Linked DNA regions of Homo sapiens. The protein of the gene in region 2 purifies or fractionates together with the protein of the main gene of each other region. This does not show direct contact. Each region holds a gene or a part of one and is shown on either strand. Other genes may lie near its edges.

What was found. The genes of interacting proteins can lie anywhere in the genome.
Region 1: the proteins of FBXW11 (region 2) and ZNF704 purify together in Homo sapiens (affinity purification with mass spectrometry; 5 studies listed by BioGRID and IntAct, with this or other methods). This does not show direct contact.
Region 3: the proteins of FBXW11 (region 2) and NFKB1 purify together in Homo sapiens (affinity purification with mass spectrometry; 8 studies listed by BioGRID and IntAct, with this or other methods). This does not show direct contact.
Region 4: the proteins of FBXW11 (region 2) and USP47 purify together in Homo sapiens (affinity purification with mass spectrometry; 11 studies listed by BioGRID and IntAct, with this or other methods). This does not show direct contact.

What each region holds. Positions count from the first base shown.
Region 1 is NC_000008.11:80,868,282-80,871,781, forward strand, and holds part of ZNF704 (zinc finger protein 704), read right to left. Parts: intron 1-3,500.
Region 2 is NC_000005.10:171,898,639-171,902,138, forward strand, and holds part of FBXW11 (F-box/WD repeat-containing protein 11), read right to left. Parts: intron 1,463-3,500; coding exon 1,276-1,462; intron 457-1,275; coding exon 366-456; intron 1-365.
Region 3 is NC_000004.12:102,595,359-102,598,858, reverse strand, and holds part of NFKB1 (nuclear factor NF-kappa-B p105 subunit), read right to left. Parts: intron 2,722-3,500; coding exon 2,527-2,721; intron 1,340-2,526; coding exon 1,198-1,339; exon of another isoform or gene 1-1,197.
Region 4 is NC_000011.10:11,949,972-11,953,471, forward strand, and holds part of USP47 (ubiquitin carboxyl-terminal hydrolase 47), read left to right. Parts: coding exon 1-33; intron 34-392; coding exon 393-511; intron 512-2,769; coding exon 2,770-2,900; intron 2,901-3,500. UniProt on the Homo sapiens protein: Ubiquitin-specific protease that specifically deubiquitinates monoubiquitinated DNA polymerase beta (POLB), stabilizing POLB thereby playing a role in base-excision repair (BER). Acts as a regulator of cell growth and genome integrity.

The sequences.
Region 1 (3,500 bases), on a different chromosome or scaffold from region 2:
CTTTTGATCAGAAATTGAAAACCATGTAATACAAAGTTTCTCTTATCTCATTTAAAGCCCACATTAGTATCCATTAGAGTAATCAAGCAACAAATCTCAGCTACTTAGTAGCATCTATCTCTGTTTCCTCAGCCCTCTCAAATCTTCCTGGAAATAAATGGGCACATGAATCCCAATACATATAGAAAGATGCCAGTTCAGTGATTAAAGGCACAGGCTATGGATGTGAGCCCATGCTCCCCACTTGTGGCCACATACTGGAGTGTGATATTTCACCTCCAGTCAGCATCATCAGATGGCGAATGGGAGCTATACTGATTCCCAAGTCATAAATTTTTGTAAGATCCTCCTTCATATAAAGCATTTAGTAAAGTTCCTGTCTCACAAATACCCAACAAATATTTGTTTGAATTAATATTACTGCGGAACCCAAACTGTCGTGGATTTCATTCCCATTCTTTTATTGATTTTTTTGGCTTACCCTTTGTTTTCTCCAACCCACTGACACATGATTTTTCTGCCTTCCCTCACTCCCTCCTGCCCTCACTCTTCTTATGTCACTCAGTCTATCATCATACACTTGCCAACTCTCTCAACAATAATTCCATCTCTTTCTTTCTATTGCTCACTCATCAGGCTAAACCCCACCTCTGCTCAATCCAGTCCTCCACTTTCTCTACAAGAGGCAACGTAGTGTAATGCATGTGGGTGCCACCTCTGGGGTTTGACTGTGCAGGGTTCAAACCCCTGCTCTGATGCCTAACAGCTTTTTATCTTTAAATAAGTCGCTCATCCCTTCTGTAGAATGAAGTTGATAACAATAATGCCTGACTCGAGGATATGTAATGAAATTTAAATGAGACTATGCACTTGGATTTGTGCTGGCCCTGGTAAGCACTCAATAAATTTAGCTGGGATTATTTTTATTATATTACTCTATGCATGAGGCCATGGAATAAAGTTGGGAAAATCACATACCCAGACAGACTACTTGAACTATAAATGTGGAATCACAAACCTCAGTTGCGTCCTTGATACTGTCTGGCAACTCTATTCATCTCCCTAGTACATTTGCTCTCAATGCCTTCAGCTCTTACTTCAAATCTCCCTCACCCTCAGCTGATGACCTTCCTTTCTGCTACATGGAGAAAACAGAAGCCATCAGAAAACTACTGTCATCTGATCATCACCCAATATAGAAAATATACCCACATCTGGACTCATATTCTCCATCTTCTCTCCAATCTAATGGAGGAAGGTTCCCAAAGGCCAGCCCTTTACTTGGGTTTCAGGTTCCCTCCCTAAGGCTTTCCAAGGACTTTCCTCCTGTAGTTTTTTCTTTTCTCTACATCTTTGGTTCCTCCCTAAATGACCCCTCAATGATCCTCACCACCTGGTGTTTATAACCTTGTAAAATTCCCTCTCCTTAGGTTGTGGGTGGAACCTGTGACTTACTTCTAACCAACAGAATATGGCCAAGTTTCTGGCCTATTCCTCCTGACTACATTGCATTATGCAAGGCTCCATCTTGCTGGCAGGCAGGCTCTAAGATTCTCCTTGCTGGCTTGATGAAGTAAGAGGCCAAGCTAAGGAGTCCCATGTGACAAAAAACAGCAGTAAGTAGGGAAGGGGAGGGGGAGAAGAGCTCTACAAGCTGAGAACAACTTCCAACTGATAACCAGCAAGAAGCTAGGACCCTCAGTCCTACAGATGCAAGGGAATGAATTCTGCCAACAATCTATGTAAGCTTACAAGTTAATTATTCCCTGGTCAAGCCTTCAGATGAGAACTCAACCCATGTAGCACCCTGATTGCAGCCTTGTGAGACTCTTCACAGAAAACCTAGTTAAGCTGAGCCTAGACTCCTAACCCACAGAAACTCTAAGAACTGTTTTAAAGCAAAAAAAAATTTGTAGTAATTTGTTACACTACACTACAATAGAAAACTAATAACCCCTCTTCCACATAATTCCCATGATGCTTTAGTCATAACACTAGGGTCTACTGTATCCCATCTTTTAAAAAAACCTAGGCCATAGGCCTTCCAGCTATTCCTCCTCCTCTTTGTTCTCCTTTCCAAAAAACTTGTCAAAAGAGTTTTTCCTGTGTCCCTCTGTCCACACCTCTCATCGGCTGCTCAGCCTACTCCAAGCACATCACTCAAACTTCTCTTGTCAAGGACACTAGTAAGTTCCATCTTATCTAATCCAAATGAACATCTCTCTCTCTCTTTCTTATTCTATATCTCAGCAGCATTCAATACAGTTCATTACTCCCCACCCACTTTTTGGAACTATTTCTTCTCTTGGCTTATTGGACTTTAGATTTTCTAGTTTTCCTTCTACTTATTTGGCTGCTGCTTCTCAATAGTGTTTGCTGGCTTCTCCATTTACACCCAAACTTAAATAGTGCTGTGCCCCAGAATCAGGCCCCAGGCTCTCCTCTCTTGGCCCCCTGCACTCCCTTAAAGCCCCCAGGCTTTACATGACATTAACATACTGATGTCGCTCAAATTCCTCCCACTATCCCTGACCTCTCCTATCCACTCCCCATCTCACCACCATCTGCCTAACCACACCCTCCACCTGGTTGTCCAATAGTCATCTCAGAATTCACATGCACAAAACAGAAAACCTGATTTTTGTTCTCTCGGTTTTCCTAATCTTAGTAAATGGTACCTTCAACCAACATTTACATCATGGTCTCATCCTGGATTCCTCCCTTTCCTTCATTACCCATCAACCAACCCATCCACAAGTTCTTGTAGGTTGATCCTCACAATAGATTCTGAATTTGCCATCTCCTGCCAATCTCTAACTCCAAGCTGCCCTCTCCCTCCCTTGGTCTGTGTAGTGACAGCCACCCAACTGGCCTCCCTGCCTCTACTACTGTCCTCCACACAGCATGGATCTTTTGAAAACTACAAATTACCTTGTAAGACTTTATTGCTTAAAACTTTTCAAAGATTTCACTATCCTTTTAAAGGGCCCACCAGGCTCTCTTTGCAGGCACCTCCCAGCCTCCTTGACATATCTCATACCTACCAAGTTCCAGCCACACTCACCCTTTTCTCCTTTCCACCTCAAGACTTGCAACTGCTACTCCCTCTGCCTGGAAAGCTCTTCCCATGCGAAATGTCTCATATCTCAGGTCAAATGTTCCCTCCTCAGAGAGATCTCACCCACAGTAGCTTTCTCTTCTTCCTTTGAAACTCTAAGATATCATGATTTTCTTCACAGGACACACCACAATCTGAAGTGTTATTCTTGCTTATGCATGTACATCTGCATCTATGTATTTGATTGTTGCTATGATGCCTCTCACTAGATGTGAGCATCAGGAAGGTGTCCACTGCTATGTTCTAGAATAGCTGCTAGCACATAATAGGTGTTCAATAAATATTTGTTGAATAAATGAATGCATGAATATATGTAAGAGGTTAACATTCGTATATGCATTATAATAAAATTATCTAGTGATATTCCATTAGAAAATCTCTT
Region 2 (3,500 bases):
CTAGTTCTCTAGAGATGGCTCAAAAATGTAAAACAATGCTTACTTAAAAAAACGGGGCCTTGGATTTTGGAAAATTTATCAGCTTAGAATAAAAAGATGATTTTAGATTAAGGTTTGAATTAACCGGCAGCCTTGCAGAAGCATTTCATGTTTTAGAAAAGTTAGATATTCTTTGCAAAAGACATTATTTTCTCTGCAGAATAGCTGCAGATTATATACAACATGACACATTTACTCCAAAAGCTCAACTTTTTAAAAAAAATTATTAGTTCTACGATTTTAGACCAAAAGAACACTCTAAGGCAACATAAAAAGTTGAGAACAAGAAACAAAGAGCCCATAAAACAGATAAATCATAAAGTTACCTCTATATCCTGGATAATCTTTGGGTATAATGACCTATAAAATGAATTTGGAGGGCCATCTGTGGGTCTGTTTTTAAACAGGTACTGATCCCTGGCAAATAAAAACAAACAGATGTTACATTTTTGCACATAAAAGGGTGAATTTTATCTAAACATGGTGCTGACAAAGATATATCTTTCATGTCTTTTAATTTGCATTGAGTTTTAACAGTTCAAAAGCAGGATTTCTGACAAATTTACATGTTACAGACAAGTTTAGCTCAATTCACAGCTCTCTAACAAAATCCTGATCGTGTTTTCTGAGTACTAATATGTAACAATCTAGCCTTTCATTCCATAGAGTTTAATAAAAAGCGCTAATGTAGCTTTGTGAAAAATCTAACTTAGTACACATCAAACTTCCTCCCGTAAGGAAAATACAGCCCTATATGCACCTCTGTCTGTAGCTCTCTCTCTTTGCTAACTGGGCCATACAGCATACAGCTAGCTATAAAGCTGCATCAGAGTTATGAGTTTTCTCTGAAAAATCCTATCACTGTTATTACTTCCTCAACCAGCAGTAATAACAAACAGCAAAATGGCACTATCTGACTTTCTCATATTTTTGTCATATCTATATTTTGGTAATGGTATCATCAACTAAGCAAAATGTGAAGGAAAAAACATAAATACATAGCTTTGAAACGCCAAATCCCATCAAACTATATAATACAGTTCATAAAGGAAATACACATTTCAGAGGGAGAAATTTTAACAGCTTTAACTTTTTCTTCCAACTTTTGACCACTCATTTTCCCCCCTTTTTAAAAATAGGCCAGCACATTTGCAAGTATAATTGCATTTTTGAGTAATCAAGCTGACTCTATGTCAATAAAATTTTTTCAAGGGAACAAGCAACCCAAGTACTTACCACCCTCTTCTTTCTGAAAGTCCTTTCCATAGGGGATCAGTGCGTACCATTCGTTCAATCAGCTTCTTCCAAAGCATTCCTTCTGAGATCACTCGCTGCCATTCTTTACATACCAGCTCTGCTGCACACAGAGACCTGGCATCCAGGTACGAAAGAATGTTTTCTGCTATGTGATCTAAGCCTTGCTCTACAAAACAGAAAAGGGAATGAAGGAACGGGAAGAGAGATAGAAAGGTACCAGCCATCATTTCCTTAAAGATAAGAGGAATAAAGAAATCCTGAACCAAGTAAAATATTTTAGTCATATCAAAAGTTCTACAGATACTCAAATCCATGAGTACATAAACATATACACTTCTTTTTGGTTCTGATTTTTTACGATAAAACAATTGATAGCAACTCTTCTCTGTGTGTAAAAGCTGACCTTGGACAGTTCTGTTATTTGTCAAATATTAAGATAAGACTTTTCATTTTCTTTTATATAACTCTCACAGCACTCCTATAGGGCAATGACGCCCCAAGTTTGACAGATGAAGCACAGAAAGGTAAAGAACTCAAGATTTTACACTCCCTTGGCTTTACTACTGGAACTCGGATTTCTTGCTTCAAAGTTTGTGTTCATTCCCATCTTACTCACTGTCTCTCATAACAAATCATATCCCCATTAATCCATACCCGGTGTGAATCCCTGGGAGATCAGAAGACAAAAAAGGCAAAACACCGACTCATCTTGAAAAACTTATGAAAAGTTAAATGGCAATCCAAGAATTAAAGTCGATTGTGCTTAAATGTATTTTTGTCAATCTTTTCATCTCCCTTTCGTGAGTATCCATTTTCTGTTCCTAAACAGATGGGACAATCCTCAAAAGCAATAGCCCCATGTCTACAAATCCTAGAATCTTAGAGGTCATTGGCTTCAACCTCCCACGATACAAGGATACTCTCAAAGAAAACCACTTTCAGCCTCTGCCTGACATTCACAATGGGAAGATGATCAACATGGCCACCACTGTTGCCACCTGTAAACTCCCATCCTGTGGCGGTAAGTATGTCTTCTACAGTTGCAAGAAATAAAGCTTCTCCCCAAGCTTATTCTGTGTAGGGACGAGAACACAGAACTTATCATCAGAAAATTCCCATTTCAAGTCCCAGGTTCACCACTTACTAGTTCTATGACATGAAACAAACACTGAAACATCCCTGTGCCTTGAATTTTTGTGCCCTAACATACAAAATGGTAATCACCAGTAACAACTATCCTTTCTTACACTGTCTGTCAGAATCAAATTCAACAGTTTTATGAAAACATTTTATAGACAAGCACTCTACAAGGTTAATATCTGTTCTCTTTTCTCAAAATAATTAGAAGTAGTATAATAGCACTAAACTTGGTTGTTGAAAGGCCAGATGTAGGTAAATTATTAAACTTTCAGAGTCAGTTTCCTCATCTGTATAAGATTACGATAATCTCTACTTGATTCTGAAAATATCAAAATGAGATGATGCATGAAAAATGCTTTACAAACTAAAGTTCCTTCAATTCTAAGAATGACTATTATTATACCATTGGTTATAATTTCCAGGTCCTTCATATACTAAAATTCTCTTACTCTGGACTAGATCAAAGACCCAAGCTATGGTCTAAGAATAAAGACTACACTGGGACCACTGTCCTTTCCTGCATGTCATTTACAGTTAATGTGGTCAAAGGCTGCACTGCCTTCATCTGATAGTCATATCACAGAAGACGCCTAAGATGGCAGTAAGTTAGAATAAAATCCCAGGCCTCTCCCCCAAAAACATCTATTGAAACAATTTCCCCGAATGCTCTATTTGCACAGCTAGTTGGAAAGGTGGGGGGCAGCTTTGTGCGGTTTATATTTATCCTTACTATAATTCACCTTCAAAGCTTTGTCTGACCCATCCATTTCAGTCTCTAGAATTCTGATTTTTGTCACACCCAGAAGAGTGGGTATTCCACACCAGACCTGCATGATGGGCTAAAGTACTAAGGCAAACATGTTAAACCATGTTGGCAAACACGTTAAACGGGTCAGAACCAAGGACAGCACCCATGACACTAGCTATTAGTACCTATTATTATAATATTTCCCTCCAAGCTAGCACTGATGCCGCATCAATATGCCCAGGGCACCCACACTGCGACATCCGGTCTGTAGTCATCTATATGTGCCATTGCCCAGTCCATATCTCTCTATTCTGTC
Region 3 (3,500 bases), on a different chromosome or scaffold from region 2:
GCATGTGCCTCGCCTTGTATCCCTTCCAACAATCCTCCCTTCAGATATCAGCACTTCCTTTCTAACCTGTATGTGCTCATCTTCTTAGACTTATCAATTTAACAGGTCCCTGGAAATGCCACTTGAAACACTGCTGTACTGTCTTGGTTAACTGCTTTTTCTTGTGGTTGTATGCTACTGAATGCTAACTGGATTATTTAACCCTGAAAAAGAATTCTGCTGTTCATGGCTTTATACCAAGAAGGTTGTACTGGTTCCTCTCATACTGTATAACAAGGCCAGTGGTTATACCACATCCTTGGTTACGTTGCAAGGAATGAGAACAAAGGTGTCTCTGCTTGAAACCCTGAGGTTGTTACTTTCCTAAAGTGCTTGGTTTAATTTTTAAACTGAAGTCTAAAACACAGCACTCAAGAGCTCTTCCACAGAAAAGGATTTCTCTATGTTGATGCTATTTTAGGAAGGTTTTAGATAAGGCACTTGACTTGAATGTGAAGGCTGCTGTCTCTTGTTATTTTTATAGGCTTTTGAGATCATTTTAGAAGTCTCAATGAAAGGACTAAGAGAACTGTTTTAGAAAGAAGCCAGGTGGCTTTGCAAATACAATCTCAGTAATAGCAAGAATGGAAGGCATGGTGTTTGGAATGTTCCACTCCCACATATGGGCTGGAGCAGTCACAAAAGTCTGAAACAGTCATAGACTGATGACCATCAGAAGAGGGAGCAGAGAAGAAACCAGTAACTGGGAAATAATGACCAGTCCCTCTTAATCTTTCTGTTGTTGTTGCTGCCTTTATTGGGCTTTTTCTTGAGTACACTGTCATAAATATGCAGCTGGGATAACAATGCTTCAGGGATTTGGTAGGACTCTTAACAATTCTCCAAATATTACTTCAATAAACAAAGCAAGGCTTTTCAAAAAGTACCATTACCTACACACATCTTAGTTTTCTTGCCCAGAGAGATTCACTCTTAGATGAGTCCTCCAGCTACTACAGATTCCAACAGATGACAGCAGCAGGATGGAGCAGCAAATTGTGCTACTTAACCTTATTCACACATTATTTTTCTTCATCATTCCAGTTAGAGGACTCAATATATTTGAACAATTATTTTTATCTCTAGTCAGTATGCATTATACGATGCTCTTCTTCTTCCCCACCCAGGACAACCTATCATGCAAAAGTTCTGACTTACCTGTCCCCATTCTCATCCTGCACAGCAGTGAGATGGCGCTGGACGGCCAGCAGCATCTTCACGTCTCCTGTCACCGCGTAGTCGAAAAGGGCATTGGCATGCCTCTTTGCAAGCTGCATAGCCTTCTCTAGAAAGAGGTTATCTGTAAGGCAATGACCACAATCATAGTTGAGTGTTCCTACTTTTGTTTTATGGGTATGGCATGCTTAAGGACAAACTGACCAGCATCAGTGTTCTGACACCTTGACATATCATTTTAGTTGAAAATGTTCTTTCAATGCTTTTGGATTGTGTGGACTAGAAAAAGCAGAATTGGACACTGGGTCACTGACAAATATAGTTAGAGATTGATCTTAAAGAATCTGTGTATGATTTGTTAGAGGAAAAAAGTTTAGAAATGTATTATTTTAAGGGAACGACCATTATCTGTTATTTTAAGGAAAACAATCTCCAAACAATGTTAGATTTTACCATGATTTTAAATCACCAATATCTTGGTGAAATAATCCTTCATTGGAATCTCTAACAATTAGCTTGTTAGGCAATGTGTGAAAAAACACACATCTCTGCCATAAACAGAGACGTTCAATGAGCCACTCACGTTTTTGTAAAGTTTGTTCCATTAAGGTCAGGGAATGGCATTTGTGACCTTTGGGCCAAAACCTGTTTATGGCCTGCTTTTCATATAGCTCCCTAGCTAATCATGGCTTATACATTTTTAAAGGGGTGTAAAAAAAAAGCATATGTGATAGACACCACATGTGGCCACCAACTCTAAATATTTACTACCTTTGCTTTTATAGACGTCTTCTTAGTACGATCTAGGATGACCTAGAATCATGACACATATGCTAATAAGTATTGGTTCACAGTAAACGCAAAAGTACATTTTCTCCTAATCCTACTTCTTCAAAGAGGGCACAAGATAAAAAGAAAAGTTCCTATTTTAAGGCAAAGTTCTATTTCAGTATGACGGTTAAGCCAGAATCTAGACAGGGTGACTATTAAGCTTGTGGAAATACTTCTCTATTTATCTGTGCCAGAAAAGAAGTTGATTATCTCTCACAATACCCTAAAACTGCATGATTATGACTGGAGAATGTACATATAAATTTCTGTCCTTTACATTCAAAGATAACAGAGCAAAAATGGAAATCCCAGTGTGAATAAAATGATCTGACATATGCTTTTCCAAAGGCATACAGAACTTTGAAGAGTACACTAAACTAGATATTGATATATCATCTTTAGATTAGCAGATATCTTTCTGCACCTAGGACTGACCCCTCCCCAGCCAACCAACAGAACGTAATTTGTGTGCTCACTTACCCTGAACTCCAGCACTCTCTTCTTTTGTTCCTGTTGCATACGTTAGAGTGACCTCACCATTCCCAACGGTGGCCTCGCTGGGCTCCTGATCTTGCTCTGTGGTTTCAATAACTTTCCCAAAGAGGTTTACAGTGTTTTTGTCATCACTTTTGTCACAACCTTCAGGGTCCTTTTTAGATTCAGTGTCCATGGTTCCTAAGATAAATGCAAAAACATCAGATTTTTCTCAGTAAAATGTATTTAGTGATAATTCGCTATTCCAATGTAGGTCAGATAAAGGTAAGAGACAAGTTTGCTGCAAAAGGAAAAGAAAAATAATAATTTAAAATTCTTTTAAAAATGGTCATATCATAAATACCATGTTTTGGAGATATTCTAAACTCATTTCTAAAAATCATTTTTAGTATACTTCTAAAATCTTAAATCTCATTTTGCTTATTTGTAAAGGAGAAAAATGAAATAAAGCTCTTCTATGAATTGCAGGAAAGCTGAATTTTTAAAGTTCTTGAAAACAGAGCAGTTTTTTCCTAATGCTAATGAACAAAGCAAATCATAAAGACGTGTTGTCGACTCACATTCTTTAGTGTGGGAGTTATCCAGTGTACCATTCCTGATCACCCTCTTTCAGGTTCAACTATGTTATCTGACAGATACTATGAGAGCATCTAGCTTTTCTGCAGGAGACCTGCTTCAAATTCTTGTTCTGCCACTAACTTCTGTGTGCCTTCAGTGAGTACGAACATTTCTGAACTTTGATGCCTTTTGTGTGCAAAATGGAGTTACTATTTTCCATATAGAGCAGTCATGAAGATAACAGTTAAAACATGTAAAAGCACTTGGCACAAAAATAGGTATTCAATAAATGGGAAGACTTCTTTATAGTATTATTTCTTCCATGGGTACACTAGAATGGACCTGTAATATAAACTATCAACATGTGGTTTAACTGCAGCTTCTCAGGGGATGACTTGATG
Region 4 (3,500 bases), on a different chromosome or scaffold from region 2:
GGAGCAATGTGGTTTAGAGCTCAGTATTGACAGGTAAAGTAAAATTAATGTCATCAGCGATTTGAAGAAAGACTATGTGGTCAGTTGAAATGGACTGGTATGATTTTCTAAAACTAGGAGAATTAAAATTTCCTGTGCTATTCAGAATTTTAGTATGACAGATTAGTTTAATAGGACTAAACAAGAGTATTAAAATTTTGTTTGGATTTCCTATACAGAATTCTAAATTTGAATTACTGGAAACATTTCTTTATTTCCCCAGATTTTAACAACTCATTATTTGACTTTTGTATTTGAACATAGTTCATTTTTCTTTGGTGTCAGATTAGTGTCAATCTTTAAATTGAGAGTTTCAAATTATAGTCGTTTTAAATGTCTTATCACATTTGTAGGTTTCGTCTAAGGAAAAAAACATGGAAGAATCCTGGCACTGTCTTTTTGGATTATCATATTTATGAAGAAGATATTAATATTTCCAGCAACTGGGAGGTTTTCCTTGAAGTTCTTGATGGTATTTTCAATATTTTTGGGGGGAAGTATCAGTTAGAAATACTCTAGAACTAATAGAAGCCTATAGTTTTTAATCAAATAATGAGTTACGAGGAATCTAATATACATTATAGTGTTTTGTGTTATATTAAGCATAACGATATCCTTATTATGGATTGATGTGATTCCTACCTACGTCTTATCCTTGGGAGTTTTATTTTCTTCCCCTGTGTCCTAATGTAACTGCTTAAGTTGTTTTTGAAAGAATAATCAGTGTCTTTCAGCCTTCTGCTATCTTTCTCTGGTTCCCATTTGCCTTTTAAGTATTCTTTTTTTGAATGTTGAGAATATTAATTCCCCCTTATGAGGAAATTACAAAGTTAGGTTTTTAATACATTTTAAGAAAACTCTGCTAATATTTTCTTAGCCACGTTTGTTCTTTAGTTTCTTTTTTACTATTATGGCTTATTTTGTATTGAAGACATGGTACTGATAATTTATCAGAGACTCAAGAACAATGACTATTTGTGTCCTAAGCCAGGTGGCTTAAAGAATAGAAGTGTATTGTCTCACAATCTGAGATCAGGCTGTCAACAGGGTTGGTTCCTTCTGAGTGCTGTGGGGGAGAATCTGTTCCATACTCTCTCCTAGCTTCTGTGGTTTTTGGCCATCATTGGCAACCTTGGCTTGTAGATACATCACCCCAGTCTCTGCCTTCATCTTCATGTGGTGTTCTTTCTGTGGGCTTGTCTGTCTGTATTGTTTTCCCCTTTTTCATAAACCACTAGTCCTATTGTATTAGGGCCCACCCTGAAGACCTTATTTTACTTTGAGTATCACTGGAAAGACCCTATTTCCAAATAAGGTCACATTCTGAGGTACTAGGGATTAGGATTTCAAAATGTCTTTTTGTGGGGGGCACAATTCAACCCATAGCAGTGACCTTGAGGAGGTCCAAGTAGCAGACATACTTGTCACACCTCCCAGTTTTCGTTATCAACATTGGCACATTTAAAGTATTGGTGTTTGGAGGGAGGCTTATAGGAGGAAAGTTGGCTTTTAGAAGATCACATCAAGGTAAACAACTAGTTCTATATTCTTTTTTTGCTGTTGCTTAGGAAAATTTTAATTTTCCTTTTCTTCTGTAGAAAGTAAAATATGAATTCTGGATATTTTGTTACAAGATTATCCTAGTTTTTAGAGAGCTCAATAATACTAACACCTCATGTATTTCAGGCTGCTTCAGGTCTAATTCAACCATAAATTTAAATGGTTGAAATTCTGATTAATTGACAAGTTAAGTTGGGAGGTAAGGAACAACTAGGATACCATCTACTATGGTGTGTAGGCAAGTGCTCCAGATTGTGATTTCTTTGAGTATCTGGGGTCGTAGGGAATAATCACTGTGCCTGGGTAAGTCAGGAAGAGATCATAAATGACAAAGAAGTCACCCTTGTAAGGATTGAGTATGTATTAGCAGAGATGGATTCATCTGAAAATGGTACTAGATGGTGGGTGCCTGCATCAGTATTATTTCAGTATATTTTCACATCAAGATAGTTGAGTAAGAAATGTCATGTGATTAAATCCAAGAGGTATTTATTGACCTGTAATTTGCCAGACACTGCTAATCCCTTGTGCTACAAAAATGAGTAAGAACCACTTATTGGTGCACACAGTCTGTGGAAGAAACAGAACTGCAAACCTGTCATTCTAAAATAATAGGTACTAAGGGACTGAATCAGTAGAAGTTCTTCTTGTGTACACCAGAGAAAAGTGACAATTGAGTTGATGCTTGAAAAGTGACAATTGAGTTGATGCTTGAAAAGTGACATAATGGAAAAGTGACAATTTTGAAGAATCACTAAATTGGGGAGTAAATGGAAAGAGAAGGATTAATAATAGCTTTAGTGAAAAAAGAGGATAAAGTGAAGTTGATTTGTTTATGATTTTAGATAGGGATAGGAGCCAATAGAGAAACAAAGATTGGAAATCCAGAGAAGAGAGTAATTGGTAATGCAGTGTTCAACAGGAGTCAGGAGGGAGTGGAATTAGGAGTACTGGTTTGAAGAAGAGAGGAATTATCTTCTGAGACTGGAGAGAAGAGAGTAAATATTTCATTCTCAAAAACTCCTTGGGATAATTGGGTTTTTTCTTGTGCCCACTTTTTAAGAGTAACACTTGAAGTAAATCTTTTTGTTTAGTAAGGCACTAAGGGAAAAGTCAAATTATGAACCTTCAGAGGAAATAGAATGATGACCTAATCTTGCATATTCTTAGGGGTAGAGAAGATGAAGTCCATGTCACAGCTTGCAGTTTTGTCAAGACGGTGGAAGCCTTCAGAGATGAAGTTGGATCCCTTCCAGGAGGTTGTATTGGAAAGCAGTAGTGTGGACGAATTGCGAGAGAAGGTAAGTTCATTTTAAACAAAACATGTATCTTATGTTGTATATGTATATCATAATATTAATAAAATATATAATATATAAACAATACATTCTTCCTGTGTTGCGTAAGAGAAAACCTAGGAAGTAGTACCAAACACTGGTGCAGCAACCTTTCTTTTTGGTTTCTGTCACACCTTGTGGCACACTCTGGTTGTTCAGGCTCCTGATTCTTTGAAAAATTACTTTGGCTCCTGGCCATTCAGAAGTGGATCCTCACTTTCTGTTACTTGGACCAATTTTGTCCTAAGTAGTTAGAATTAGTTAGAAGTTACTAGAGTGAATTGCTTTATGTCTAAAAAAAACCAAATGAAGTCGAATTGTGTAGAGAATCCAGATGAAGGTCTGTTTTGCATTTTAAGATGGGATATCTAAGGATCTCTGGGGAAAGGGTGAATTAGTCAATCTGTGGTACTAGCACAATGAGCATTTTGAAAAAGATTTATTTCCATACTTCATACTAAACACAAAAATAAATTCTAAATGTATTAAGTTTATATATAAAAAAAGTAAATGTACTAGGTGAAAATATGTAAAATATTAAATACTAAAAATATTTTCATATTC